Linked DNA regions of Homo sapiens: region 2 is linked to region 1. The links come from fine-mapping of genetic effects on gene expression. A gene starts in region 1. The other region holds a variant in brackets. All regions are shown on one strand. Distances are between the middles of the regions. Region 1 holds the start of STX2 (syntaxin 2). Region 2 has its middle 3.7 kb from the start of RAN.

Region 1 (2,908 bases):
TGGACAACTGGCTGTCAAGACCTTCCATCGGGTAACAGAACCACATCACACCTAGAACCAAGTCCAAAACGTCCTGTTTTTTAATGTGTAGCCTGTTGCTCTCAAGCAGATTTCTTAGCGCTGCCTTCTGGTCAGACCAAAGCCACCTCCTCCAGGAGGCAGTAAAGACTTTAACCTTGTTTAAAAACAAATCTGGCCTTGCCTTCTCCTCCTGGAAGGCAATCTTTGTTTGCCTGGGAGTCTTCGGCTAGCCAGAGAGTAACAGTGTGATTTATGGTGGGGGCTTAGGGTTACATGGATATCACTTAACCAAGAGGCTGAGATCAAGCATGAAAGCAATCAAACAATCAATCAATCATGCACATGCAATGGAGCCCAGTAAACGTTCTGCACACTGTGGCTCAAGTGAGCTTCCCTGGCTGGCAGTACTTCGTGTGTAAGGCCACACATCAGTGCAGGGCAAGTAATGAGGCCTGACTACACAGGGAGAGGACCACGGGAGGACCTTGAAGCTGCACGCCGTAATCCCCAGACTCCCCCTCTGCCCTTCTTCCTTGGCTGATGTTAATCCGTATCATTTTCCTGCTAAGAAACCATAGTTGTGAGTACAGTAGTTTTTAGTGTATTCTGTGATTCCTTCTAGCAAATTATGGAACTTGAAGGTGGTTTTGGAAACCGCCAGAATTTGCCGTTGGTGTCAGAGGTGATAATGGTCTTGGGGACTGTTCCCCCAACCTGGGTAGTTCACCTAAGCTCCTGCACCTTCATGACGACCTCTCTGCCAGTTCCGTGCCCATGCCCTTACTTTCTTTTCTCATCTATCATTTATTTGTCTGTGTCTGTATTGCCTGTTTCTCCTGCCAGAATGGTATCCCAGGGCTGGGCCTGCGGACGCTCTTCCCGTTACCGCCCCCTGCCGTGTTATGCTCCGTAAGCATCATGTGTGGTACACGATCTCTTCTCCTTCATTCACACCCGAGGCTGCGCGTGGACCCTTAAAGAGAAGGTTCGGCATATGTATTACCCAAAGCTGCACCCAGCACATTCCGGGAGCTTTGCTCTTTTGTCACTATTCGTTGAATGCTCTATATTTTGATAAATAAAACAATGAGTGTGAAAGCATAAAAGCAGATCAAGGGACAAACAGCACGTGTAGCGGAACTGCCAGCCTGGGGCTCGGCCGGACCCCGCCCCTCCCCGCCTAGGCCCCGCCCCCAGGCCCCGCCCCTCCGGGCTCCCGCTGGAAAGCGCTGCCGCCGTGTGGGTGGGTGCGGGGCGCGGCGCGGGCCGGGCATGCGCAGAGCGCGCGGGGCGCGGTTGCCGTGGCAGCGCCGGCTCCAGGGAGGGCTGCTGGCGCCGGGCCGGGACCGCGGGGCCTGAGGCGGAGACCGGAGAGCCCGAGGCCCGGCCGGAGGCAGCTCGGGACAGGCTTGAGCGGCGGGGCGCGCTGCCCGGCCGGCGGGGATGCGGGACCGGCTGCCAGACCTGACGGCGGTGAGCGGCAGCCGCGGGTAGCGGTTCAGGCCCGGCCGGGGCGGCGTCTGGAGGGCGGGCGGGGGCTCGGGGCGTCTTGGGCGGGGCTCCGGGAGGGTCCCCAGGGCGGGGATCTCCGGCGTTCTGGGGCGGGGGCTGCGGGCAGGGTCTCAGGGAGTCCTGAGCGGGGACTGCTGGTGGGGTCCCCAGGGCGGGGGTCCCGGGAGTCCTAGGGTGGGGGCTCCGGGCGGGGTCCCCAGGGCTTCCTGGGCGGAGTCCTCAGGGCGGGTTGGGGCAGGAGGAGGGAGCGGGGAAGGTCCCGGCCTCGACCCCCTCTTCGAGCGTGGCTCCCTGTCCGTCACTCCGCTTGGCGGATTGTATCTGGCGCTTACCCAGCCGGAGCCCACTGGCCTAACTGTGGTCCGCCCCACGGGGTCCCCGCAGCTGGCGTCAGCCCCGGGGAGCAGGCCGGGTCCTCTTGGTCGCTGCTTTATCCCTGGGGCTTCACAAAGGACTGTGCACCAAGCGGGAGGCAACAGATGGGTGTGAAATGTGGGCACCTTAGAGTGCTGGGTGCTTGGGGTGGGGCGAGCGCGAACAGCAGCTTGTGTCTGATCTCCCAGTAGTTTGCTTTGGAAACTGGGACCGTGTGTTGACTCTGAACGCACCTTACGCGCCCAGCAGCCGGGCACACAGCAAGTTACTGTTTACTTTAGCAAGGGAAAAGCAGGTCACTAAAAATTTTGGAAGGATTTCGATGCATTCTACACGTGTAAAGGTGACAGGACTGTGCATGGTGCAGTGACAGCGGAATGATAGTGATGGTCGTGCACTTTCCAAGCTTGTCTAACCCAGGACGGCTTAGGCCAGCAGAAGTAGTTATGACTTTTTCCCTTTACAATACAGGTACTAATTCATGCTACGTGTGTGCACAGATAGAGCCTCTGGTCTCTAAATTGTTGGCAGCCTCAGAACAGGGGTGCTAAGGCCCACAGCCCTACGACACCCACTGCATGTAATGAATTATTCTCTCTCCTCTGCTGCTAGAATGGAGCTGTTATGTACCCCCGAGTGGGAGAATAGAGAAAAGAGCCACTTAAATCATTATCTGTGTTCTGTGGTTCAGATGAGGAGCTCTGGTTGAGAAAGGCAATGATTTCATCCTTAGGATCATGGAAATTATGCTTTATATTCATTCCAAGGAAGTTTCTTCACGGTGATTTTTCCTTTTTTATTAATGGACAAATATTCCCTGTGTTCCGCAGATCAATATCATCTTAAACACAGCAAATTATAGTTGTGTTGTCTTGCCCGATGGATTATCTTTCAGTGCCGTGTAGTAGGAGCTCAGGTATTTATTTAATGAAGAAAAGCTGTGGCTCACTCCTGTAATCCCAGCAGTCTGGGAGATCAGGGTGGGGGCATCACTTGAGCC
Region 2 (2,908 bases), 29 kb before region 1:
ATACCAAAATTGGAATGATACGGAGAAGATTAGCATGGCCCCTGCGCAAGGATGACAATTTTTTTTCTTCTTCTTTTTTTTTTTTTTTTTTTTTTGAGACAGATTCTCGCTCTTGTCACCCAGGAACTGCGGAGAGAGGTCATAGAAGAGTTTAACCTTACCTGCAATGTTCCATTTCTTTTTTAAAAAATGGTAATCAGGGCCGGGCACGGTGGCTCACGCCTGTAATCCCAGCACTTTGGGAGGCCAAGGCGGGCAGATCACGAGGTCAGGAGATCGAGACCATCCTGGCTAAACCGGTGAAACCCCGTCTCTACTAAAAATACAAAAAATTAGCTGGGCGTGGTGGCGGGTGCCTGTAGTCCCAGCTACTCGGGAGGCTGAGGCAGGAGAATGGCGTGAACCCGGGAGGTGGAGCTTACAGTGAGCAGAGATCGCACCACTGCACTCCAGCGTGGGCGACAGAGCAAAACTCCATCTAATCAGGCTGGGTGCAGTGACTCACGCCTGTAATCCGAGCACTTTGGGAGGCCAAGGCAGATGGATCACTTGAGCTCAGGAGTTTAGGACCAGCCTGGGCAACATGGTGAAACCCATGTCTCTAAAAAAAAAACAAGAAAGAAAATTAATTTTAAAAATGGTAATCAAAGCAAGGTGACAATATATTAACCATTTGTATAATTCTGGGTGATGAGAACATCAGTGTTTATACCTTTTGGCGTTTTTTCCCCTACAAGAATCCAGTCGAGGATTGCATGTTACGCTTTTAACTTGTTTCTCAGGCCTCCTTAGTCTCTAGTTTTTTTTTTAGAGACAGGGTCTCTGTCACACAGGCTGGAGCATAGTGGCTTACTGCAGCCTGGAACTCCTGGGCTCAAGTGATCCTCCCACCTCAGCCTGCTTAGTAGCTGGGACTACAGGCATGTGCCACCAGGCCCAGCTAATTTTTTATTTATTTTATTGTAGCAATGGGGTCTCACTATGTTGCCCCAGCTGATCTCACCTATATACCTATATGTGATTTTATAAAGACGTAATTAGGTGTGTGTGTATATATATGACTTTTTTTCTCTGAAATGTTTGAGGTAAGTGGCAAACAGGATGCCCTTTGATGTGCAGTTCTTAAAACCAAGGACATTCTGTTACATAACCACTGTACACTTATCAAAATCAGGCAGTTAACATTGCTCTAATTTGATTATCTAATCTCGACCCTTAACTGTCAGATGTCTCACTAACACCATTTGCCTGGTTTAGGATCCAGTCCGGGATTGCATGGAA[C/T]GTTTGCTTGTCAGCCTCCTTAGTCTATTTCCATCTACAAGTCCTTCAGCCTTTCTTTATCTTTCATGACCTTGACACTTTTTGCAGAGTTTTTTTTTGGTTTTTTTGAGACAGAATCTCTCTCTGTTGCCAGGCTGGAGTGCACTGGCATGATCTTGGCTCACTGCAATCTCCACCTCCCGAGTTCTGGCATTCTCCTGCTTCAGCCTCCTGAGTAGCTGGGACTACAGGCGCACGCCACCATACCCACCTAATTTTTGAATTTTTAGTAGAGGCGGGGTTTCACGATGTACCATGTTGGTCAGGATGGTCTCGGTCTCTTGACCTCGTGATCTGCCTGCCTCGGCCTCCCAAAGCGCTGGGATTATAGGCATGAGCCACCGCGCCCGGCTGAGTATTTTTTTTCCCCCAAGACAGAGTCTTGCTCTGTCGCCCAGGTTGGAGTGCAGTGGTGCGATCTCAGCTCACTGCAACCTCTGCCTCCCGGGTTCAAGTGATTCTCCTGCTTCAGCCTCCTGTGTAGCTGGGATTACAGGTGCCTGCTACCACACCTGGCTAATTTTTGTATTTTTTGTAGAGATGGGTTTTCACCATGTTAGCCAGGCTGGTCTCAAACTCCTGACCTCAGGGGATCCACCCACCTGGGCCCCCTAAAGTGCTGGGATTACAGGCGTGAGCCACCACGCCTGGCCTTGCAGAGTATTTTAGAGGCCAGGTATTTTGTAGACTGTCCTTTCATTTGGATTTCTCTGATACTAGCTCATGATTAGATACAGGTTATGCAGTTTGGGTAGGAAAACCACAAAAGTGATGTTGTGTCCTTCTTAGTGTCTCAGATCAGGAGGCACAGGGTGGATTTTGTTTTGTAGTGACAGGGTATTTCTCTGTCACCAGGGTTGGAGTGCAGTGGCGAGATCATGACTCACTGCAACCTTGAGCTCCTGGGGTCAAATGATCCACTCACCTCAGCCCCCCGAGTAGCTGGGAATACAGGCAGGCACCACCACACCCAGCAATTTATTTTCTTTTTTGTAGAGATGGGGTCTTGCTACATTGCCCAGGCTTATCTCAAACTTCTGGCCACAAACAATTTTCCTGCCTTAACTTCTCAAAGTATTGAGATAACAGGCATGAGCCACTGCATGTGACCCAGAGTGATCTTTTAAAACCATATCAGAGGCAGGGTGTGGTGGCTCACACCTGTAATCCCAGCACTTTGGGAGGCCGAGGTTGGCGGATCATGAGGTCAGGAGATCAAGACCATCCTGGCTAACATGGTGAAACCCCGTCTCTACTAAAAATACAAAAAATTAGCCGGGCATGGTGGTGGGTGACTGTAGTCCCAGTTACTCGGGAGGCTGAGGCAGGAGAATGGCGTGAACCCGGGAGGCGAAGCTTGCAGTGAGCCGAGATTGCGCCACTACACTCCAGCCTGGGTGACAGAGCGAGACTCTGTCAAAAAAAAAAAAAATCAGATCATCCTCCTCCACTGGTAAAACCTGCAGTAGTTTTCTATCTGTCTCACTTAGATCCATGAAATCTGTAGCCAGGGAGGTACTATGGGCTCTAGCTCATGCCTACCTCTCCCACCTCGTCTCCTGCCTCTCTCCCTGTAACCTCACAAGAC

The links. PIP is the estimated chance that this variant, and not a neighbour inherited with it, causes the effect. A credible set is the group of variants that fine-mapping cannot tell apart.
Region 2: its variant is the best candidate, but not a certain one, in a credible set for the expression of STX2 in atrial appendage (GTEx, PIP 0.82).

Annotation. Positions count from the first base shown.
Region 1 is chr12:130,837,656-130,840,563 of GRCh38, reverse strand. STX2 (syntaxin 2) reads left to right here and starts at 1,314. Exons shown (of 11, transcript NM_194356.4): 1 at 1,314-1,494. The coding sequence starts at 1,465. RefSeq lists silencers at 1,111-1,620, 1,691-1,750.
Region 2 is chr12:130,866,909-130,869,816 of GRCh38, reverse strand. It overlaps the pseudogene RNU6-1077P. Among named protein-coding and RNA genes, the nearest start is that of RAN, 3.7 kb to the left of the region's middle. The variant C/T (reference allele first, on the strand shown) is at 1,282.